Regions from separate parts of the Homo sapiens genome. Here regions 1, 2, 3, 4 and 6 are each reported to be linked to region 5. The links are microRNA targets in miRTarBase. Many come from high-throughput screens and were not tested one by one. Region 5 holds a microRNA gene; each other region holds the end of a gene's coding sequence.

Region 1 (4,090 bases), not on the chromosome of region 5:
ATTACAGGTGCCCATCACCACGCCCAGCTAATTTTTTGTATTTTTAGTAGAGATGGGGTTTCACTATGTCGGCCAGGCTGGTCTCAAACTCCTGACCTTGTGATCCTCCCATCTCGGCCTCCCAAAGTGCTGGGATTACAGCACTTTTTTCTACTGGGATTACACTTTTTTTTTTTTTGAGATGGAGTCTCGCTCTGTTGCCCAGGCCGGAATACAGTGGCGCGATCTCAGCTCCCTGCAACCTCCGCCTCTCGAGTTCAAGCAAATCTCATGCCTCAGCTTCCCAAGTAGCTGGGATTACAGGCACCTGCCACCATGCCCAGCTAATTTTTGTATTTTTAGTAGAAACGGAGTTTCACCATATTGGCCAGGGTGGTCTCAAACTCCTGACCTCAGGTGATCTGCCCGCCTCGGCCTCCCAAAGTTTTGGGATTACAGGCATGAGCCACCACACCTGGACTTTTTTTTTTTTTTTTAGATGGAGTTTTGCTCTTGTTCCCCAAGCTGGAGTGCAATGGCACGATCTGGGATCACTGCAACCTCGGCCAGGGTTCAAGCGATTCTCCTGCCTCAGCCTCCCAAGTAGCTGGGATTACAGGCATGCGCCACCATGCCTGGCTAAGTTTTTGTACTTTTAGTAGAAATGGGGTTTCACCATATTGGCCAGGCTGGTCTCGAACTCCTGACCTCAGGTGATCCACCTGCCTTGGCCTCCCAAAGTGCTAGGATTACAGGCGTGAGCCACCACGCCCAGCCTACTTTTAAAAACTATTTTGTAGAGACAAGTTTTCGCCACCTGGCCCAGACAGGTCTTCAACTCCAGGCCTCAAGTGATCCTTACACCTGGGCCTCCCAAACTGCTGGGATTACAGGTGTGGGCCACCATACCAGGCTCATATCACTTTAAATAACTAGTCACTATATATAAGCTCTTTTCAATTAACTTTATTGAATAGCCAAGTTGATAAGTTAGCATAGATCAAACAATGGTCTGCATGGGTTACAAATGACTTTTTTTTTTTTTTAACAGGAATAAAACAGTGAAAATTACAAACTGTAAAAAGGAAGACAAATCTTGTCTCCAACTTTTCAGAGAAGCAAGATTTAACACAGCACATTGAAGATCAATACATATTTGAATTTAAGAACAAGAATTTAATATTACAATATTATACACTACTTTACAAAATTAAAATTTCTATATAAGGATTACATTTGTAATAGTTAACAAAATTTTGAAATCACATTTGGTGGTCCCCTAGATAATAGCTGTTATGCATCTTTGATTAGAAGAAATAAATCTTTATTCTAATTATTGCAAAACAGTCTATTAGACTCAATACATTAAATTAAAAACAGTGAAAATATATGCAAACTAAAATAAATGGTACTGCTTGAGTGACTATTAGTATGTCAGACTTACAGAAATGTTATTTTAAAAATCCTAGAAATTAGAAAAATAGAGTACTTTTTATGGTAGAACTGCCATGCTCAGATTTAAATACCAAGATTGCCCTTGTCTGTTACATTAGTAGTTGTAGATCTGTAGAAAATTCAAGGATCTTTCATAATTTACAACTATAATTAAAAAAAATATGGCATAGTGTAAATATTAGTCGCTTTACATCAAAAAGTAATACAAGATGATATGGCAGGTAGTGCCCTATTGGGGGAAAAAAAAAGAATCAAACTAAAAAACACATTCAACATTGCAAAAAATAATTGCCTTATATCAGTATCTCCAAAGGCTCATTCATTCTCTCATTATGTGGAGAACAAATATTGTGAATCCTAACTAAAGTTATGTTTTTCATGACCTGTTATAAAATTATTCTGAATTGCACATGTTACACCGTATCTAAAATAATATTTAAAAGTAAATTTGTGAAATATACTAAAAAAGCATGTGGTAATAACAAGAGTCATACCCACTTAGGGATGTAGTGAGGCACAAGGAAGATTATCCCTAAAAGCACAAATGTTTCCCTCTAGAAGATTCTTTACTACTAAGAAAGGACCTACAAATAACTCCATTTAAAATCACATTAAGAGGAACATTTTAGTTATTTTAAGAAACATCAGCATATAACGACTGTTTCTTTAAAAGAGGGGATAATATAATTCGCTACAATTTGAAAATTGCTTCTTAATAGATGAAGCAGCTTTCAAGAAAACTTCCAGTTCAATGTGCCACTTACACACTGCAAACCAACCTTAACACTGCTTAAGGGAGATATTTTCATAAAACATGATTATTTTGATCCAGCTGGCAAGCAGTAGTTGTATACTGTAGAGGGACTGCTTCTTCCCTATCCCAAACAACTCAGTTAAAGTCAGCTCATATTGATATAAACCTGGAAGTTACTATTCCATTGGTGATCATATAAGACCAAGATTGTAAACATTTTCTAACCCATTAAAACAAAACAAAAAACCCAAAAATATTTTGATCAAGTATTATACATGAACATATTTAAGAAATTCTTAAGACAAAATGAATCTGTGAAAACTGAGCCAAACTCTTAAAGATACTATGTCACAGCACTTTAAATATACAAATGTATAATTTACCTATTTGTAAACAAAATTCACTCAATAGTTTTGACTATAATATTTCTCTAGCTGAATCAAGAAAGCAGTCTCTTAAGGATTTTCAGAAGTCAAGTTTCTTTCATAACTTTAATATGTTGGATGTGTATAATCTTAATATCCACCAAATCAAACAGCAGCATTTATGCTTTCATAGATTTTCATATTCAAGCATAAATATTTCTTATGAATGACTTCCAATTTAACAATTAAACTCCTTAGAAAAATGTTACTGATGTATTTGGATAGCACTTTAGAAACCTTTCATTTCTTCACTCATTTCACCAAAAACCCCCACTTTTATTATATACCCAGAGCAGAAATGCACCAAATAAAATCCACTTAAAGGATCAAGATAATTAAAGTTTCTTATCTCCCTATTATCATTGCTAGTCCCAGTGTTTATGAAGACAGCTCAAATTCTTTTCACTATAGATTAAGACAGTATGTCCAACTCTTCATCAGGAAATCAGAAAACCACCTAATGATAGTTCTCACTTCAAATCAAAGTGACTTTGTTCTTCAAGCATAAAGAATACTGACAGATTTTAAAGCTTGAATGTGTTTCTTCATATTTTTCTCAAGCTATACTAGAATTAGTTTAGTTTTAGTCAACATGATCCTTTCCCTTAACAAAGAAAAAAAAAAGACACGTGTGGGGAATGAATTCTAGTTTTCCTACATTATATTTACTTTCCATTGTTTTTATTTTAAAAACATCACTACCAATCAATTTGTAACTTCCCTGCAACACTTAGGTTTGTGAGGTTTTAAATGTAGCAGCCAAAGATTCAGAAAAATTAAAAATGAGAAATATACATGTAGAACACAGAAATCTTTATTTTACAAAATGTACTTTGCCTCTGCAATATTCTTATTTTAATCCATAACAACTCAAACATAATTGGCAAGAAAAAAGTATCCAATCATACGTAGCTATATTCTGATTTGAAAAATACAGTATTTCAGAGTTGCATGTTTGATTCTCTGCTGTGGTCTTTTATTTGCTATAGGTTGTTGAAATCACAGTGAGAACATCTCAATCATCACATTAGTCCACAAACATAATAGAAAAAGAAGGTATTACACATTTCCAGGTATTCTGCACTATCGTGACATTCCTTAAAAATAAGTCAAATTTCTTCATTCATTCATTTATTCACTTGTTGCTGTATATGCAACAGGAATTCATAATATGATAATGCAGATTCTGTTCTGTCTTCTATCATGTTTTGAAGGAAGTTTGCTTTCATTGGACTCTCATCCCTTAGGAATAAAAGGCAAAAAAATTTAGATAAAATGTAGCAGTAAAATAGACTTGTCAGAAGGCTTTTGATTTCCTCATAACCCTAATAACATTTACTATATAAACAGTTACTTCTAGAGGCTTTCTCTGAGAATACTTGGTTGATTATGTAAATTTCAAGTTGTTTAAGGGAAAAGCTTATGGTGGAATTAAGAGAAATAGTTGATCCAGAAATTCCATTTCTGAATATATATC
Region 2 (4,090 bases), not on the chromosome of region 5:
TATTCCTCATTATACATATGCATATAATAAAGAGTATGAATTTAAAAGAATAGGGGTTATGTAATTAAGTCTGTAGACATTAATGTTACATTTTTGGCTAGAGGATTTTTTTGGTACAATTATACTTTGGGCACAGGGAACTGGAGAGTGGGAAAAGGTGGAAAAAGTCAGAATTTCAAAGTAAATGACTAATGTCTTCCTCTGGTGTGAACCTAAATTCAAATGTCAGTGCTTCCAGTCTTATGACTGTCTTCTCAACATGGACGAGGCATTAGTCAAAGAGCTAGTCCTTCACATGGTCACTGAATGCTCTTGGTCACATGCACCATTTGATGACATTCTTGTACCCACATGTTCCTTCTACCCACATATCATACTTATGCAGTTAGGCTCATAGGACAAATAGCTACTCAGAGACTGGTTCCAAATTTCAAGCTATATTTGATATGCAATTGAAAATGTATGTCAATTTTTCTAAATTTTCTACATTTCTACCCTATTTTAGAGGGTGCTTTTAAAAAGTACAACAATTTAAGTTCAAAGAAGGCTTTACTTAGAAATATGTTGAAATTACATTCTACATAAGGCATATGGATCTCTACTTGCAAAGTAGTTTTATGAACTAGAGCCAGACTTGTCCCACATGTAAATTTGGAAGCATTCAAAGTTTAAAAGTTTGAAAACCTAAAAGGATAGTTCCCCTCTAAGCTTGCAGGGTAAGGTCCTGCAAACTCCCCTGAGCAGGAGAAATTTGGGAACGCACAATCAGCACTATTTAGCGGGGGGGGGGGGGGGGCGGGGAGGGGGAAGAAAAGGATTACTGGGTTTGCAAATGAATTCCCTAGACTTTCTTAATGTTTACCTTAAAAAAAATTAGAATCATACCACAGCTAGATTCTGCCATCTCACAGATGCTGGATAAGTGGTCAGAAGACATGTCTTTTGCTTTCCAGAAAAGTTTGTCATATAATCTCTTTTCTCCTACAGTGCCAATGAGATGCTTATCAAATCATGTTTACTTGTGAGTAACACATATAAATGGCATTTTACCACTGGTTTTGGTCCTCTATCCTTGTGTTCCATTACTAGGAGTTGAAGTTAACTCTGAAAAAAAGGTAAAATATAGTTGACCCTTGAACAATGCAGGGATTAGGGATGTTGACCCCTCATGTAGCAGTAAATCTGTATATTAACTTTAAACTTCCCAAAAACTTAACTCCTAATAACCTATGGCTGACTGGAAGCCTTACTGATGATATATTAATAAATAATCAATTAACACATATTTTATTATATAGATTATAAACCTTATTCTTACAACAAAGCTAAAAATATTAAAGAAATCAAAGAAAATATATTTACTATTCATTAAGTGGACACGGATGATCAAAAAGGTCTTCATCCTTGTCTTCACGCTGAGTAGGCTAAAGAGGAGGAGGAAAAGGGGGATGGTCTTGCTGTCTCACGTTGGCAGAAGCAGAAGAAAATCTGCATATATATACTGATCTGCACAATTCGAACCCACGTTGTTCGAGGGTCAACTTTAACTCACTTTTAACCTGCCAATTCAGTCAACTAGTTAATTTTTCAAATTTTCCCCTCCAAAAAGTCTCTGCTTTACCTTTGGGAGCTATAAACCCTGTAAGATAACTCAAGTTCCACTTTCCTAGCCAGGCTCAGGAAAGGCATTTCAAAGTTCCTTCATCTTTCTTTATAAAAAAATGTCAGGCCGGGCACAGTGGCTCACGCCTGTAATCCCAGCACTTTGGGAGGCCGAGGTGGATGGATCACGAGGTCAGGAGATTGAGACCGCCCTGGCCAACATGGTGAAACCCCGTCTCTACTAAAATACAAAAAAAATTAGCTGGGTGTGGTAGCACGCACCTATAGTCCCAGCTACTCGGAAGGCTGAGGCAGGAGAATCGCTTGAACTCAGGAGGCGAAAGTTGCAGTGAGCTGAGATCGCGCCACTGCACTCCAGCTTGGGCAACAGAGCGAGACTCTGTCTAATAAATAAATAAATTCATGGCAAATGTACTGTTGGTTTTAACATTTTACCTCTTTTCTATTCTCAACTCGTAGGTCCTGCTATTCTTGTTAACCCCTGGGAGTGACTAATGGAAGACTCAAACTAAAAATTACTGTTGCCAAAGTTTTTAACAAATGATAAATCAAAAGGAATTTGCAGTTAGGGGATTATTGAACTGACCACAAAGGATTAGAAAACCAAAACCTCTCTACTGAATTAAATGTGTTCCAATACTTACAACACTGCTTGGTACATACTATTATTATGACTAGAATACTAAATTGAACTAATACTGGCTTTATTTTCCCTTCACCATTAACATTTTAAGCTGTTTTTGAGTTTCAACTTCTTAGAAAAGGCAATTTCTGAAAAGCATAAATTTGCCTTTTCCTGCTATTTATAATAGAAATTGAATAAGAAACATACTAGAAGTATACATAATTTTAAACTTAGAATTTAGGGATCATGTAAATAGCTGCCTACTTATAATCTGTACTATGCATTTCCCAAAGAGTTTTAACATTACTATTTTAGTTAAAATTGTATTACAGAAGCGAAGTTCATCAACCTCCTGCCATTACTGGGTATATCAAATTAAAATGCAATGTTAACATGTGGAGAAAAAAAACTTTATTGGTATTACAGCAAAAAATTCACATAAGATACATAAATTATGATACCTCAAAGCTAGACGCAAATAAAATACACCTAATTATACAAATTCTATACAATTAAATCAAGAACATTAGGAAAATTTTTTTGCAAAAATGTCAAAAAAAGATTTGATCTGGTCGGGTATAGTGGCTCACACCTGTAATCCCAGCACTTTGGGAGGCCAAGGCGGGTGGATCACCTGAGGTCAGGAGTTCAAGACTAGCCTAGCCAACTTGGTGAAACCCCATGTCTACCAAAAATACAAAAATTAGCCAGGTATGGTGGTGTGTGCCTGTAATCCCAGCTACTAGGGAGGCTGAGCCACGAGAATCGCTTGAACCTGTGAGGTGGAGGTTGCAGTGAGCCGAGATCGCACCACTGCAGTCCAGCCTGGGCGACAGAGTAAGACTCCATCTCAAGAGAAAAAAAAAAAGATTTGATCAAACCAAGATTTCAGAAAAACAAAACCAAAAACACTGTGACTTGGTTAACACTTATTTAATTTTGGGAACACAGTAAAAAACAGAAACAAAACATCTATTTCTTCACAATTGTGAAAATGTCTGGCTTGAAACACCTTTGACATTTATCTCACTTTCGCTCTCAAGTTTCAGGCTGCTGCATCCATGGCGGCTAGCTGGCAGTGATGCTCTTTTCTGCTCTCAAGGTTTCTTTGGGCTTGGAATAGTTCCACGGCCGTCTATTTTCTGTGAATCCATAAAGTTTTCTAAGGGCCACTCGAGCAGCCTCTTCTTCTGCAACCAATACTGTTTCCCCAGGTCCTTCTGCAATCAACTTTTTATCACTAGAAAGAGAACAAACAGTAGTCTTAAATTACATGGAATATTGTAAGACAGTACACAAAGCAGTTATAAAGCAATTATGCCTTCTACATCTATTTCAATAATACCCATTAGAAGTAACACAATAGCTCTGATAGATCATCTTTTGGATTTTAACTAGATTTGTTGCAAGTTCATTACATATGGTAATTAGACAAAGATACACTTACGTTTCCTTAGAAATATATACAACTCTGTCAAGTCAAAAAAGCAAGTCGTATCTAGGTTTTCAATTGTTGATGAGAGAATTGGAAGAATATGTAAATAAATATCTCCCTACAAAAACCTGAAACTAGTAAAAATATTATCAGGAATTATGACTATTTTTATTTTTAATGTGTGATATAACTTGGGAAAAATAAATATCTCCTTACAAAAACCTGAAACTAGTAAAAATATTATCAGGAATTATGACTATTTTTATTTTTAATGTGTGATATAACTTGGGAAAAGATTCTGTTGAAAAAATTATGCCTTTTGAGTCTGTCATTTAAACTTTAACACAAATAAGAAACCAGAAACCAGCTCTATATTTCAAATTAAGAACTTTAGGCTGGGCATGATG
Region 3 (4,090 bases), not on the chromosome of region 5:
GAAGAGATAGTTCCACAGTGTCTCAGTTCTGAAGAAACTAAGAACAAAGTTGTATCCTTTCTGGAGAAGGTACTTTCTTTACATGGCTCATGTTTTATTCTTTGTCCTATTTTTTTTTTTCCGAAATTATGTAACTGTAACCAACCTGAGTGTCTTCTTAGCTTAAACTTTTCACAGTGCTGAGCACAGTGCTGACGACTTTTACTAAGCAATTGAGGCCACAGAAGTAAAACACTTGGGGCCAGGCGCGGCGGCTCATGCCTGTAATCCCAGCACTTTGGGAGGCCAAGGTGGGTGGATCATGAGGTCAGGAGTTCAAGACCAGCCTGGCCAACATGGGGAAACCCTGTTTCTACTAAAAATACAAAAATTAGCCGGGCATGGTGGTACGCGCCTGCAGTCCCAGCTACTCGGGAGGCTGAGGCAGGAGAATTGCTTGAACTGGGGAGGTAGAGATTGCAGTAAGCCAAGATCATGCCACTGCACTCCAGCCTGAGCGACAGAGTGAGACTGTCTCAAAAAAGGACACTTGTAGTTCCTCTGCCTGTAGTTTGGGGTGTAATAGCACTGATTATCCAGGCAGTGAGATGACTAATGAGGATCCCTAAGCTATTAATAATCATAATTAAATACACTTGATCACATAATTAGGTAGGCCTGAGAGGATGTTTACTACCATATTTTGGGTATAATTTAGGCATGGCTTTTTTTTTTTTTTTTTTTTTTTTTTATTTGGGCAGCCTCCCAAGCCAGGGTAAGCTCAGGGCCCTTTTTTTTTTTTTTTTTTTTTTTTTTTTGGCATGGCTTTTTTATTCTCTTTGCAGCCAAGACCTGTTTTTACAATTAAAACCAAAATTTTGAATCACAAGGTTCCTATGTCTATGCATACTTGGGAACTTAGTGTGAGGAAATAATAGTTAATTGAAATACTAGTGGAACTGTTAAACCACAAATTTAGACTACCAGGAGAAACTGAATTATTTGATATATTACATGTAATGATGCACGTTATATATTTTACATATATTACATATATATTTTTTTAGGTGAAATGGGCCCACTTGACTCACTGAACTTTATTTTTTAGACAGAGTCTCGCTCTGTCGCCCAGATTGGAGTGTGGTGGTGTGATCATAGCTCGCTATAACCTCAAACTCCTGGGCTCAAGCATTCCTCCCACCAAAGTCCTGGGATTAGAGGCATGAGCCACCACACTTGGCCTACTTATATTACATCTAAGCTGGATTTTAAGTACATGTGTATACACTGCTGTTGCCAGTTTCTTAGCTTATACAGTAAAGGTTAGCAGACTATCATTTTTTCCTGCAAAGACAACTCTATAACTAACTATTTTGTAAGGAAGAACACAGTAGAGTGATTTAATCCAGATTATACTAAGAGTATTTATAGATCAGTCCATGTGACTTCCAGAATTTGCCTAGTATGGTTGAACACTCAGCACTTAAATTATGTGGCCATTTCATATCTAGTAGAGTGCTAACATGTTGCTATTTGCTTGGTTTTTCATGGTCCCTGGCAGACTGGGTTTGTAGATGAAACTGAAGCTGCCAAAGTGGAACGTGTGAAACAGGAAAAAGGTATTTTCTGGGAACCCTTTGCTAATGTGACTGTAGAAGAAGCAAAGAGGTCATCTTTACAGGTATGGGCTGATTTCAATAGGGGCCAAACTTTAACAAGGCAAATTCTGCCCTTTTTACTTACTGACGAAACAAACCAGTGTGGTTTCCAGCCTTATGCTGAATTTCAAATCAAATAGATCTAGACATGTAAAATTCTGTTTTATGGTAGTTGCTTTTAAAATTAAGAAGTGGGACTACACCATATCAAATATATTCTTTCAGTATGTTTGAATTATTGGTAGTAACCTTTAAGGGAAGTTACATATTGTACCAGTGATGCTATAAATGCAGTCTTTACTGAACCACAGAAGAAAATGAAAGAAACTTACTCCTAAATGTTTAGTTTGATTCCTTGCCTTATTAATCAAATGAGTCTCCTAATAATTTTTGGCAGTAACTGAAGATCACATCTACTTATTAAAAGGCAGAATTTGACACCAATAAGGATATTCAAAATATTGTTTTGAGCACTATTAGTATAGTAATTAGTATAGTAGTAATTCATGAAGAACAACATTCTGATAAGTTTTAGTCAAACTCTCATAAAAAGAAAATACATTTATGAACTTGTTTATAAGACATGTAAGCTTGGACTATGCAGCACTTCTCATTGGGAGCCCTTTGGGACAGGATACTTGTTGTATACCACATACAAACTAAGACACTGGTAGTAGCACTCTGAATTGCTATGATAAACCAAAATGCCTTTACATATTTTTCTAGATGACTGTGTAGGGGTTTTGGGGTGCATCCTCCTACCCTTGTGATCCAATGACTAGAATAAAATTTGCATGTAAGCTTTACTCCAGTCCAAAAGGAAGGTTCTTTATATTTAGAATGGATATTGTGATATTACTTATGTTTTTTTTCCAGCCTTATGCAAAAAGAGCTCGTCAGGAGTTCCCCTGGGAAGAAGAGTACAGGTCAGCGCTGCATACAATAGCAGGGGCTTTGGAAGCAACTGAGTCACTACTCCAAAAGGGTCCTGCTCCAGCCTGGCTTTCAATGGAAATGGAGGCGCTCCAAGAAAGGATGGATAAGCTAAAACGTTACATACATACTCTAGGGTGAAACTTATCACTAGGCAGAACTGGGTTTGATGCTTTGTCAACTGAAAATACTTATGTCTGTACATTTTCTAACAGATATAAAACAAATTTTGTAAAGTTGAATCTAGTGAAAATAATCTTTATTTGACATTTAGAGAACAGGATTGTGGGGAATATTCTTATTAAGAACTTTGGTACAATGTACTACATGTGGAACAGTCAGGAACTGCCTAGGTCCACAAAGAACCATTTACTCAGATAGTCTAACTGTAAACAAATAAATAAGCTGCCTAAGGAAACCTCAGCAATTTAAAATCATTTATATAATTTATAGCTAAAATTTTTTAAAGTTGTATTTCATAATAGAGCTTACTCTTATGTTAAAGAATGGCACAAAATTAAGCTAACCAGCTTGAATTACATTTTCTTTACTTCCAGAATTGTCCTGGAAAAAGCAGTAAATTCGACCTCTCCTCAGCTACTTGCTCTTCATAGAAACTGGCCTCAGTCAAATGCACAAAGGCTCTTCCTCCTGGAAACCAGTACTGTGAGCCTCACCACCCAGGGCTTTTAGCCAGCACTCACAGTCAGTCTCCTACTTCAGTTGGCACAGACTGGATAATGAGCTCCTGGGATGGGAAAAGCAGGCCACTTTGGGGTTTTCTTGTCCCAAAGCCTGCTTTTGAGGTATTGATTTTTTTTAAAAAAAGGGAATCCTTTTTCCTAAAGTTTAACTCACATCTATTGTCACCAGTTATTATCTTCCCAGTTCAGCTCCCCTTCTTCTTCCCAGCCTTCAGCCTCTCCCTGCAACAAAATAAAGCACACCAAGAACCCACTGAAACAAATCATATGCAAAAATCATACGCAAATTTGAAAAAGCAGGAATTTAAAATTTATCTTTTGATGCCAGAAACACTACCTCGTACTAAGTAAAATAACTTAGAGCTCTAACAGAAAGTTGAAAAGTAGGATTACAAAACCATGGCACTGGAAAATAGCTTTTCAAAAACCATAAAATCCAGTAAAAATCAGTGTGGATGACACCAAATCCTTATTTTAATCCCTTTTTTTTCTTTTTCAAATAAAAAGGTTACAATAGCTCATTAAACAAACTAAGCATTGCTACATTTTTCTGGGGGAAGGAAAGATAGATACCAATGATAGAAACTGATTTTGTTAATTTTGTGCTTGACTTGACTAGGAAAATAGCATGTTGCTTGTTATAAATGGGATACTGCAACTAGGACCTATGAGGGAAATCCTAAAGCTAGTAGCACAGTTTACTCCATAAAAGTACTCACCTCAGTAATTTCTGCTGCAGCAAATTTTGAGGAAAACTGCATCACTGGGGAGACATCATCCTTTTTTGGGACCATTTCTGTCCTCAGTTCAGGTAAT
Region 4 (4,090 bases), not on the chromosome of region 5:
ATTTGTTTGATTGGTGTGTATTGTGATTGGTGGGTATTTGTTATGATTGATTGGTGGGTATTTGTTGTGATTGGTGGGTATTTGTTGTGATTGGTGGGTATTTGTTGTGATTGATTGGTGGGTATTTGTTGTGATTGGTGGGTATTTGTTGTGATTGATTGGTGGGTATTTGTTGTGATTGGTGGGTTTCATGTGCTGGTCTGTGTACTTGTTCCTTCAGTGTTGATTTTGGGTTCTAACCTTACAACCTTTTTCTCTTTCATTTTTAGTTTCTTTTTGCACAGTATATGCCTGAATGGCTCTGGGTGTGGGGAGCAAATATTCTCAACCGTTCACTACGTAAGGAAGCCTTATCCTGCACAGCCTGAGTCTGGATGGCCACTTGAGAAGTTTTGCCAACTCCTGGGAACCTCGATATTCTGACATTTGGAAAAACACATTTAATTTATCTCCTGTGTTTCATTGCTGATTATTCAGCATACTGTTGATTCGTCATTTGCAAAACACACATAATACCGTCAGAGTGCTGTGAAAAACCTTAAGGGTGTGTGGATGGCACAGGATCAATAATGCCTGAGGCTGATTGACGACATCTACATTTCAGTGCTTTTTCCCTAAGCTGTTTGAAAGTTACGCTTTTCTGTTGTTCTAGAGCCACAGCAGTCTAATATTGAAATATAATATGATTTGTCAGGTCTTATAATTTCAGATGTTGTTTTTTAAGGGAAATTGACCATTTCACTAGAGGAGTTGTGCTGGTTTTTAAATGTGCATCAAGAAAGACTACTGAAAAGTATTATTTTGTAACTAAGATTGCTGGTACTATTAGGAAAAATCTGTGTGTATTGTATAGCTCTAGCTGTTTGACTATCTGTAATGAAAATGCTGCACTTCAACTGGTATTTCATTAGAGAACCGTGTGTGTGCGTGTGTGTGGTGCCTTTGAGCAACTTTATTTATGGTTACCATATTTTTAAAAAGATTTTTTGTCAGGGTGACTTAACATGGACTCTTATAGGGTATTAAAACAATCTAGATTATTCCTTTTCATCCTAAATAAGCCTACCAAATTTCATGCTGTTGGTTTGCCATGAATGATATTACTTCCTACATTATATTTGTGTTTTTTCAAATCTGCTATGGAATGAACTTATTCCTAGATTTGGATATGTAAGAGAAACCTGCAGTCATCTTTTGATTTATAAGGCAATTCTTGTGGATAAATAGTGATTTCTCAGCCTCTGACCCATTTTATAACTGAAATTTAGCCCTTTAGAGCTTGTTATATCTGGTTTTCCTACGTTTTTCTATGTAATATTATTCCATTCCAGTAGCATTATTGATAGAAATAGTAAGTATTTATGGAATAGTAAAATATGGACAAATTACGTGTGTGACATATCTGTCAATATAAGTTAGAAGCTTATTCTTGGTTTGTGTAATGAATTTATGTATTGTAGTGAATACCTTTACTGGTGTGAAGATAATTATGCACAAACCCTCACAATACGCGTTAACATTGAAACCTGTGAAATGTCCTTAGTTTGGGTCATATAAAGCCAACCATTTTTGAGGACCATGTACCTAGTGCTTTGAAAACTCTAAGTCACTATATGAATATGACAATATGTGCACATTTAAAATTCAGAGCTCGGCATTGTGATACTGATGCAGAAGCTAGTAGATTGGTTAAAAGTCTGGACTTCTGTGGCATTTTTTTCGTGACGTGATAATCTATCATAAGCAGACCTAAGCACAGTTTTATGAACACAATTTTGCCCATGACATTGCCTACAGGATTTCCAGATGTGACTTGCACTCAGAAGATCAGTGGTCAACTTCAGAAGCTCTTCCACGCTTAGATCATGTCTTCAGAACTTAGATGTGAAAATCTACACACTGGGAGATGCTGTGAGCCCCAAGGTTTTGATGGAGTTTGCTTGGAATCCTCTTGACTTCATGCCACATTGACGTGAACTTTGATGTATAATAAGCAGCAGCAACTTCATGTGAAAATATGGTCAGGTAGTTATATGTAAGGTTACGTGGTCCAGTAATGTCTTAGATTGATAAATTAGGTATGGAATCCATCAGTGTTACGTGATGAGAATAGGTGAACACACCTTGTCAGTGATGATGTAAACTTCTCTCCTTGGCAGGACATGGGCAAACATGCTGATTGGTGCAAATGTGGTGCCGAGCTGTCCATAGCTGCAGTGAAAGATGAAGAGCAAGACCTTCTCTAGGTTTTCTAGCTTTCATTAAATGTATTTTTTTCCCCAGAGCTAATTTGAAAGTTGATTGGACCACTGTGGATGGGGTGTCATTAAGAATGTGGGAAATAGGGGCCGAGTGCGGTGGCTCACACCTGTAATCCCAGCAGTTTGGAAGGCCAGGGCAGGTGGATCGCTTGATCCCAGGAGGTCGAGACCAGCCTGGGGAACACATCCTGTCTCTACAAAAAATACAAAAATTAGCCAGGCAGGGTGGTGCATGCCTGTAGTCCCAGCTACTTGGGAGGCTGAGGCAGGAGAATTTTTTGAGCCCAGGATGCAGAGGTTGAAGTGAGCCAAGATCGTGCCACTGCACTCCAGCCTTGAGACAGAGCGAGACCCTGTCTCAAAAAAAAAAAAAGAACGTGGGAAATATGAACCTTTGAAAGTTAATCTGTGAATTGAAAGTTTAACAATAAAAGTAGTTGTTTGTTTCCTTTGGAAGAGTTTTGTTCCAGATGTTTGTAATTTGGTTGTTTGTAATTTGGAATGAGAGAATTTTTTTTTCTTAGGAGTGATTGCAAGAAATTAACATGAACAACAGTGGTCATAACTGATTAAAAGCTGACACGTCAGTAACAAAATTGTTTATAACTATGTGCCTAGTCTTTGGAAGCTACTGGGTTGACTTCTGGATCTCTTTCTCTTGGTAGGTTGAGTAAGGTGAGGATTGATTTGAGCATGGAATTTGGCTGTGTGGATGGAGATCATTGGTGATTTTTTTCCATGAGCCATTTCAGTCTTCAGGCTAGAATTGTAATGGATTCAAGAAAGAGTGGGAAGAAGAAAAAAAGGGAAGAGAGCAGATAGAGACAGCTCCTAGGAGACTTTCCTGTGTTTTCCTATCCTCAATTACTTAAAATCTAATCACATTTGGGAACCAGAGGGTTAGATGGTTATGTCCTCAAAACCTATTCCAGTCAATTTATGTCTCAGTCTCAGTATTGGCTTATGTGTTATTTATCTTTTTAAAAATTCATATATGTTTAATGAGTATAAAGCCAAGCACAGGACAGTCGTGAATTCAGTAGAAATATTCTCTGTTATTCCTGGCCGCGTGCAGTGGCTCACGCCTGTAATACCAGCACTTTGTGAAGCCGAGGCGGGCGGATCATGAGGTCAGGAGTTTGAGACCAGCCTGACCAACGTAGTGAAACCCCGTCTCTACTAAAAATACTAAAATTAGCCGGGCGTGGTGGCGCGCCCCTGTAATGCCCGTTGCTCAGGAGGCTGAGGCAGGAAAATCACTTGAACCCGGGAGGCGGAAGTTGCAGTGAGCTGAGATCGCACCACGACACTCCAGCCTGGGAGACAGAGCAAAACTTTGTCACAAAAGAAAAAAAAAAAAATATTCTGTGTAATTCCTATGGTGAGACTGAAAGGGAAGGGAGGCAGCTCTAGAACCCACTCTGGAACGTGCACAAATAGAACTTCCACTTCCACAGCAAGCCCCCCTGCGAGGGCGATGTGCTCTGGCCAGCCCCGCACAGCGCCACTGTTGAGGGCGGGATGATGGTGCTGCAGGCATGGAGACAGGTGCTCCCGGGGGAGGGGGTGGGCAGGCTCATGGCCTTCCCGTGGCGTGACGTTGACACCCTTCTTCAGTAAGTGTTTGCTCAGGTGGTTGTGGAAATACTTAGGGGGGTGACCTCCATCAGTGAGTTGGATGGGAACACACAGTGGGGCAGGACTTGTGTCATCATGCTTTGTGGACAGTAGTTTCCGCTTATCCACAGTTTTGTTTTCTGAGGTTTCAGTTACCTATGATCAATCGAGGTCCGAAAATATTCAATGGAAAATTCCATAAATAAACAGTT
Region 5 (4,090 bases):
TGCCAGGTGTGGGCTCCCGACATGGTGTCCCTCTGTCCCTCTGCACCCTGCATGCAAACTGCTGGCTGTGTTCTGATTCTGCAGAAGCCCCAGGGCCCCAAGGAAAGGTTGAATGTCCACTTCTACCAGCCAGAAAGTCCAGGGTTCAATGCCCAGAACTGAATGTAATGAGATGGGCTTACCAAGCTCATCACATCTACACCCGCTTAAACCTGGGCTGTAAAGAATATTATTACCGCCCCCGTACAGATGGGGAAAGTGAAGTACGGGGTAGACACAGAGCCAGACTGTACATCGGGCTGATGCCAGAAAGTGCAGAGCTCAATGCCTGGGTCCTCGTGCGGTTCCCAGGGCCTCCCGCGGTCCTCTGATCTGCTCCCTGCCTCCTGAGCACTGTCCAAACTGTCCCCACATGGTGTGCCTCTGTCCTATGGGTGCTGTAGAGCAGGGGCCGGCTTCCAGGTGTCCTCAGCATCCTTCCGTGCGGTCAAGTTGGAGAACAGAAACTAGACAGGAGAAGGCCTTGTCCCAGGTCCAACCCAAGAAAACAAATGACCTTCCCTGGGAGATCCGGTGAACCCCCTCCTTGGGAGTCCCCTTGGAGTCACCCCCACCATGGCCAACTCATGATCGAAGACACTGCACCAAAGCAGAGGCTGCCCTGGTGTGAGCTTACGATTGAGTCTACGGTGCGGATGCAATGATTTATTCCAGCCAGGCCCACGTGCACAAGCGGATCATTCTAGAACCGGAGCTGGCCCCTCCCCTAGGGCACTCCTCCTTCCTCCAGTTGTCTGCGTGGCTGGCGCCTCACCACCTTGGCCATCTGCGCAAAATGCACATGTGTGCCGGTCCCCAACCATCCTCTCCTCTCTTTCAATGCTTGGTGTCTTTTCATGGATGGGTCCCTCCCTCCCCACTAGCTGGCCTCTGTGCTTACTGCCTGGCTCTATGATCCCTCTGGGTGTTTCGGTCCAGCACCACTCCCATGCCCACTAGCTCTCAGTAAGCTCTGAGACAGCAGGGGCTGTTCCACCCGCAGGGGCCACCCCACCATCAGGACGGCGCTGCTCAAAGGCGAGTTTGTTCTAGATAACAGCCAGGAGATCTCACAGCCTCCAGAACTGCAAGAGAATACAACTGTGTGCTAGAAGAACAGTGAGAACAGGAGGCGCCCCATTCCGGAGGTGTCCATCTTCCCCAGGAGATGCCCCACTCTGGGGGTGTCCATCTTCCCCAAGGAAACCATGTCCCGGCTGGAATGTCAAGAAGGTGACACCTAAATGAAGAGGTGCCCACCCTGGCTCACGCCATCCCCCCAAACGAGCATGCCACCGCCTCCTCCTCCTCTTGGGAATCCTCCTCAAAGCCAAGCCCACTCCAGCCCCCTTCCCGGGGAGCTGGCCTCCCACACAGTCCACACCACCCCCTCCCCATGTCATCCTGGCCACGTCATGACTGTTGAGATTGGCTACGAGGGGTGTGTTCCGGCTCCCCGGGAACAGAGTTGAATGTTCTCTACTCCATGACACCATGCCTTCACCAGGCCTCAGGCGCTTCTAGAAAACCTACTAAGCCAGGCGTGGTGGCTCACGCCTGTAACCCCAACACTTTGGGAAGCCAAGGTGGACAGATCGCTTGAGCCCAGGAGTTCAAGACAAACCTGGGCAACATGGCAAAGCCCCGACTCCACTAAACAATACAAAAATTGGCCAGGGGTGGTGGCATATGCCTGTAATCCCAGCTACTCGAGAGGCTGAGGTGAGAGGATCACTTGAGGCCAGGAGATCAAGGCTGCAGTGAGCCATGATCACACCACTACACTCCAGCCTGGATGACAGAGTGAGACTCTGTCTCAAAAAAAAAAAACAACCAAAACCTACTAAATGCCAGGCGTGGTGGCTCATGCCTGTAATCCCAGCACTTTGGGAGGCCAAGGCAGGCCCAAGGCAGGCGGATCACCTGAGGTCAGGAGTTCGAAACCAGCCTGGCCAACATGGTAAAACCCTGTCTCTACTAAAAACACAAAAAATTAGCTAGGCATGGGGGTGGGCGCCTGTAATCCCAGCTACTTGGAAGGCTGAGGCAGAAGAATCACTTAAATTCGGGAGGCAGAGGTTGCAGTGAGCCCAGATCGTGCCACAGTACTCCAGCCTGGGCGACAAAGCAAGACTTCATCTCAAAAAAAAGGCTGGATCACAGGATCACAGGATAGGCACAAGCCCTGAGGGAGCTCCCAAGGAGGAGGGACGCACTAGACCTTCACCCCCATTTCAGCCTGTGAAGATTCACTTTCGTCTGAGGTTCTGTAGAGGGTTGACTAGTGACCCCCAAAAAGACATGTCTAATACCTAACCCCAAGAACCCACGAATGTGACCTTATTTGGAAAAAGGGTCTTTGCAGATGTGATTAGGGATCCCGGGATGAGACTATCCTGGATTTGGGATGGGCTCTAAATCCAGTGCTCGGTGTCCTTATAGGAGAAAGGCAGAAGGGGACTTGGGACACAAAGAGACACGGTGGGGAGGGCTACGTGATGAGAGCAGAGACTGCAGATGCTGCCAGAGCCAAGGAGCGCCTGGGCCAACGCAAGCTGGAGGAGGCAAGGAAGGGTCCTCCCCTCGAGCTGTCGGAGGGAGTGTGGTCCTGCCAATACCTTGATGTCAAACTTGTGGCCTCCAGAACCATGAGCGAATCAATCTTTGTTGGGCCACTTGGTTTCCAGTAATTTGTTCCAGCAGCCCCAGGACACTCACAACGAGACCCCTGGGAAGATGAAACCCCTGGCTGCACAGTGGCCCAGGGTGAGGCTAGCTGGTGTGGTCACCCACTCTCCAGCCCAGCCCCAATCCCACCACAACCACATTCGACAAATGGCCCACTGTGGGCCAACGGACACGTGGCCATTCCAGAGCTGCCACATCAGGAGCCCAGAGGAGCGAGAGCTGCCTCCTTCCCCCTTCTTGGAGTCGCACAAAAACCCCAGATGGTTGGAGAAGTCATCGGAGGAATCACATCACTCTAGATTCTTGTTTCATTGCTGGGATATGTGGCAATGAAACAAGATCATCCCTGCCAGGGATGCCTCATGGGCAATTGCCTCCCCACGGAGGACATTGTGAGTTGTACCCAGCCGGGAAACATTAGGAGATGTCTGTCACCAGGCTGGCAGAACAGGGCTCCCCAGCATCTCCTCCCCCATCAGAGTCCTAAGACTGCGCCCTGGGTCCTGCAGTCACACACGGTCGCCCCTCTCTTCCCAATGTGCAGGCCTCCTGGGAAGCCCCCTGCCACCATCCTCACAGTGGAACCGGCATAACCTGCCCAGGGGTAGCAGGTCCTTGTCACTTTACACGTCTCCATCTTCCCTGTGGAGGGAGACGCAGCCAAGGGGTATCCACATTCACCCACAGAAGCGAGAGTGTTCGTGAGCTTGTCATTTTGCAGATTTTAGAACCCCGTACGTGACTGCACAGATCCACAGGCCCAACTGGGCAGATTCAAAGGACCCACGCAGCAGGGAGGAGCACCGGACAGCTTCCTCCTCTGTCTGCAAGGAGTTAATGCAACTGAAGGACACAGAAGAGGCTCCCAGCTGAGCATCACAACTGTGGACCGTGCACAGTGTCAGAAAGATGCGGAGCCAGGTCATGTTGGGAGGATCCCCATGCTGTCACTGGAAGGTAAAGCAGTGTCACCCCCCCACCCATAGAGCAGGAGGTTCCCACCTTTGCCAGCCATCTCCTTCATCTGTGAATTCAAGTCCCCTAAAGCCAGACTCCAATCTCGCAAGCTCCCAAAAGCCTCCCTGGGTCCCTTCTCCAATCCCCACCGATCTCAACTTGCTCCAAAAGCCTGAAGACCGTTCATGTGCTTTGGCCCACTTCTGGGAATTTATCCCAAGGAAATAATCAGAAGTACAGAAAGATTTACGTACGAGGACATTTGCATCAGCATTAAACTGACAAAACCTGGAAACAGTCCGGGTTTCCGCAGATTTTCTAAACCCATATGTCAAAGGCCTGCACCATCATTAAAATCACATTTTTGAAGATGAGAAATGCCGAGAATATTAAGTAAAAATAGCAG
Region 6 (4,090 bases), not on the chromosome of region 5:
TCATCACCGCAAGGCAGGTGAAAGTCACCGCAGGAGAGCGGGGGACAAGAATCAGAAAGCGTCTTCCCACCGGTCCGCATCTGGCCATAAAAACACGAGAGATGACAAAAAAGAAAAAGGGTACAGCAACGTAAGGGGCAAGCGACATGGCTCCTCTCGCAAGAGCTCCACCCACAGCTCCACCAAAAAGGAGTCGAGAACAACTCAGGAACTGGGGAAGAACCAATCTGCATCTAGCACAGGAGCTTTACAAAAGAAAGCCAGTAAGATCAGCTCTTTTTTAAGGAGCCTCAGGGCCACTCCTGGTTCAAAAACAAGGGTCACATCACATGACAGAGAGGTAGATATCGTGGCTAAGATGGTGGAGAAGCAAAACATAGAGGCCAAAGTGGAGAAAGCCCAGGGTGGCCAGGAGCTGGAGATGATCAGTGGCACTATGACATCCGAGAAGACGGAGATGATCGTCTTTGAAACCAAATCCATTTAAAGAGGAGCCAGGGCTACAACCGCCCAGGGATCTGGAAGTATCCCTAGAGGAGCCCATCCCAGCTTTCTTTACTGCAGTTCAAATAATAAAGGAAATCGTACAACTCCAAAAGAAATACAATCTCCTGCTTGAATTTTTCTGCCCATAGCCTGGTGGTGACCTCACAGTGGCTTCTGTGATGGTGGCTATGCTACAGCTGGAGACCCCAGCCTCCAGGCAAGTAGAGCTCCACCACCCGCCCACGGCCAGCAGAGCCAACGTGAGTGTTCAGCTTTGCCTCAATCCCTTTTGCTTCCCCGAGACTGTCAAAGCCACAGACTAAGAGCTGGGATGCATGGCCACCACCATGTCCCCTCGCCCATTCTCCTCTTTTCCCTGAATGCCCCTGAACATGGACATTCAGTCCAGTTCTTAGCCTATGCAGAGACAGGATTCACATCCCCTCAGGGGATATTCAGGGTAGGAAGGAGCAATACAGCAGTATTTGTAGGCAATTAGAATAGGAAATCTATTCTTCTAGATCAGGAATTGGCAAATCATGTTCTGAGGTCCAAATCTTACCAGCTGCCTGGATTTGTAAATAAAGTTTTATTGGAACATAGTCACAGACTTTCCTTTGCATATTGCCTATGGCTGCTTTCACGCTAAAAATGACAGCTCTGAGTAGTGGCAATGGAGACCATATGGCCCACAGAATCTAAAATATTATCTGGGCCTTTAAGAAAATGTGTGCTGACTCTTGATCTAATCTTAACAAGTCTTCCTCCAAGGTGTAGACAGTGGAGAAATTCTCACATATGCTTACCAGTAGACAACTAGGAGAATGTTTACAGTAAAACAAGTTGTAATAGCAAAACCCTGGAAATTGCCCAAATGTTCATCAAACAGGAGAGTTAATAAATTGTGGAATGGACTACAGTGCATAATCTACAATAGTGAAAATGAATAGCAGCTATACATGTTAGCATTGATAAATGTTTATTTTTTATTTTTTTGAGACAGAGTCTCAGTTTGTTGCCCAGGCTGGAGTGCAGTGGGATAATCTTGGCTCACTGCAACCTTGGCTGCCCAGGCTCCAGTAATTCTCATGCCTCAACCTCCGGAGTAGCTGGGATTACAGGCATGCACCACCATGCCCAGCTAAATTTTTGTATTTTTACTAGAGACAAGGTTTTGCCATGTTGGCCAGGCTGGTCTCGAATTCTTGACCTCAAGCAATCCGTCCTCCTCGGCCTCCCAAAGTGCTGGGATCACAGGCATGAGCCACCATGTGTGGCTGGCATGGATAAATCTTACATAATGTGGGATACTAAAAGCAAGTCACAAAAATATATATGATATAGTTCAATTTGTAGAACAGCTCAAAAATAAGATTCAACAATGGGATATATATTTGCTAAAAGTATAGAGAAAAACAAGGAAATGATAATCACAAAATTAAGGATAGTGACTATCTATAGGATAAAGGGAGAGATGTCTGATCTGAGGGGCACACACAAGGAGTTTCAACAGAATAGTGATTATTCTATTTCTTAAAGAAGAGGTTGTATTCATGGGGTGTTGTTACTGTATCTTTATTTTAATATCTCTGAAATCAGGATTGTTTTTAAATCTGTCAGCAAGGTGTCAATTGCATGTCACTATCACTGCCTTAGAAATGCCCTAATCAATTTATTTCACCAATGTTTTCCTTTTTACACATACACATGACAGATTTATGACAGAATATCTAAGTCTGAAAGATCTTTCAATAAGCATGAAATAAAAATTCTAAGTGACATAAAAAGTATTCAGAAACACGGAAAAATGTTTAAATATATTAAGAAGTAAAATAGTCCAAAATGCTGTGTACTAACATGATGTAAATTATGTGTTCGTGTGCAAGTTAATTCCCAGAATAAAAAAATCACACTACATTAGAAATGGGATTATAAATTTTAAAAACCTTTACTGTAAAAAAAAATTGTCTTTCCGTTTTTAAAAAACCTGTAAAATGAGTCCATGGAAAACATTAAATTATTAACACCAAATAATAAAATTTGGATTTGAGAAAAATGATTCTGGGAGCCATGTAAGTCCAGGAGGGGAGCACCTGCCCAGCCTTGCAAGTCTTTGCTCATTCTCTGCAGCAGCAGTACCTTGGAGGACAGAAGTTGGGTTTCCGGCAAAACTTAGGGACCTTTTCTGAACACCAAATATGTGTAGCCAAGATGGAGGAGGTGAGAAGCGACGTATTCTGGGAGGAGCGGTGGCTTGTCAGTATCAGGGGAATCCCTTCTCAGTTGCTCTAGTGGGTGGCTGGAAAATCTCATCTTGTGATTTTTGATAAATACCATAGAGGCTGAGATTAAGATGTTCTGGGAGTTGACTCTTGAAACAGTGGGTACAGGTAGAAGGAGAGAGAAAGAGAGAGAGGCACATACTCTAAAGTCTGAGAGGGCCTTTGGGAAAGCCACCCGGGAATGTGAAAGGTTGGCAGGTGGGGTAGAGGAGAGAGATAAAAGGAAACTCCTTTCAAAGCCTTTGGTCTGGAGTTCCAGGTTTACAGCTATGCCAGAGTCTGAATTATCCTAGCTACAAACGGTTTAATCTCATAATTGTGTAGACTATGGCTTTATCTTTTGTCTTTCTTCTAGTCTTGTTTTATACACCCTCCCCTGTCTGAGGGCTTCTTCAGCATGAATATAGTTTATCCACCCAAATGCAATTTAAGTAAAGTAGAGATGGGGACTTGCCCACCACAGCGTGCTGTGCCATGCACTTTCTCTGCATTTCCTTTTCTATCTTGATACTTCATCAAGAGATAGATGCATAAATACCTATGTATTTCAAAGCAACAGGCCTCTTCCTCAGAGGGAGTTATCAATTGGGGCATCAAGTCAATACCCCTATCAGATAAAAGCCAATATTTTTAACGGCAATATTTGTCACCATGGTAACAATTCTGCTGCTGCAAGTGCAATGAGACAGTGGATGGTCGATTACTAACCAATGTTCCAAACTTAAAGTCTGGCATTACACACATAAGAACAAAGATGACAAAGCGATATTTTGCCAAAAGCAGTATAAGATCACTCATGCAGTTGTCATGTTAGGGTGGAGTCTTTGAAGCAGAGGAAACTGGTCTATGGTGAGAAGAAGCAAGGTGCCTCAAAATGTCAAATGCCATCATGGCTGGCAGGGCAAGAACGGAAGGCGAGATGCTAGAGGGAGCAGCAGGGGACAGACTGTGCAAGGCTTTGAGGTTCGCATATGCTACTTTGACTTCTGTCCTTAGTAATGAGAAGCCACTGAAACATTTTAAGTTGAGGAGTGACTTGATCAGATTTGTATTTTGTAAAGGTCACTGTAGTTGCTGTGAGAAAAAAATATTTGGGAAGGTAGTTGTTAATATGTGTCCTTATGTAATTCCTGTCTTTTGCTGCAGGATCTATAAAATGAGATTACAGGAGATGTTTTGAAAGACATGTTCCCATTAGAAATGTCCATGTGATGGCTGGGTGCTGTGGCTCATGGCTGTAATCCCAGCACTTTCGGAGGCTGAGGCTGGCGGATCACCTGAGGTAAGGAGTTCGAGACCAGCCTGGCCAACATGGTGAAACA

Evidence for each region. Region 5 holds the annotated microRNA hsa-miR-4316 (GGUGAGGCUAGCUGGUG, at 2,805-2,821, shown strand). A microRNA usually pairs through its seed, bases 2 to 8, with sites in the 3' UTR of a target mRNA and lowers its output. Matches are read on the target gene's strand: a 7mer-m8 pairs with bases 2 to 8, a 7mer-A1 pairs with bases 2 to 7 and ends in A, and an 8mer does both.
Region 1: the mRNA of SEC24A is a reported target of hsa-miR-4316. Seed matches in the 3' UTR shown: 7mer-A1 at 3,351-3,357 and 7mer-m8 at 1,944-1,950.
Region 2: the mRNA of MRPL44 is a reported target of hsa-miR-4316. Seed matches in the 3' UTR shown: 7mer-A1 at 3,025-3,031.
Region 3: the mRNA of SCYL3 is a reported target of hsa-miR-4316. Seed matches in the 3' UTR shown: 7mer-A1 at 902-908.
Region 4: the mRNA of HSDL1 is a reported target of hsa-miR-4316. Seed matches in the 3' UTR shown: 7mer-A1 at 1,500-1,506.
Region 6: the mRNA of GARIN3 is a reported target of hsa-miR-4316. Seed matches in the 3' UTR shown: 7mer-A1 at 647-653.

Annotation. Positions count from the first base shown.
Region 1 is chr5:134,724,745-134,728,834 of GRCh38, reverse strand. SEC24A (SEC24 homolog A, COPII component) reads right to left here. Exons shown (of 23, transcript NM_021982.3): 23 at 926-3,855. The coding sequence ends at 3,741. Among named protein-coding and RNA genes, the nearest start is that of CAMLG, 12 kb to the left of the region's middle. RefSeq lists a silencer at 1-85.
Region 2 is chr2:223,966,261-223,970,350 of GRCh38, reverse strand. MRPL44 (mitochondrial ribosomal protein L44) reads right to left here. Exons shown (of 4, transcript NM_022915.5): 4 at 2,637-3,488. The coding sequence ends at 3,317. Among named protein-coding and RNA genes, the nearest start is that of MRPL44, 11 kb to the right of the region's middle.
Region 3 is chr1:169,850,277-169,854,366 of GRCh38, forward strand. It overlaps SCYL3 (SCY1 like pseudokinase 3), which reads right to left. Exons shown (of 13, transcript NM_020423.7): 12 at 3,994-4,090; 13 at 1-3,496. The coding sequence ends at 3,437. FIRRM (FIGNL1 interacting regulator of recombination and mitosis) reads left to right here. Exons shown (of 25, transcript NM_001320047.2): 23 at 1-69; 24 at 1,541-1,660; 25 at 2,514-3,804. The coding sequence ends at 2,711. Among named protein-coding and RNA genes, the nearest start is that of SCYL3, 42 kb to the right of the region's middle.
Region 4 is chr16:84,120,908-84,124,997 of GRCh38, reverse strand. HSDL1 (hydroxysteroid dehydrogenase like 1) reads left to right here. Exons shown (of 6, transcript NM_031463.5): 6 at 270-2,857. The coding sequence ends at 368. Among named protein-coding and RNA genes, the nearest start is that of MBTPS1-DT, 5.9 kb to the right of the region's middle.
Region 5 is chr17:77,395,759-77,399,848 of GRCh38, reverse strand. It overlaps MIR4316 (microRNA 4316), which reads left to right and starts at 2,795; the gene lies at 2,795-2,865. The region is part of intron 2 of SEPTIN9 (septin 9); the gene reads right to left. RefSeq lists an enhancer at 1,204-1,922.
Region 6 is chr5:157,158,844-157,162,933 of GRCh38, reverse strand. GARIN3 (golgi associated RAB2 interactor family member 3) reads left to right here. Exons shown (of 2, transcript NM_130899.3): 2 at 1-1,088. The coding sequence ends at 487. Among named protein-coding and RNA genes, the nearest start is that of GARIN3, 5.4 kb to the left of the region's middle.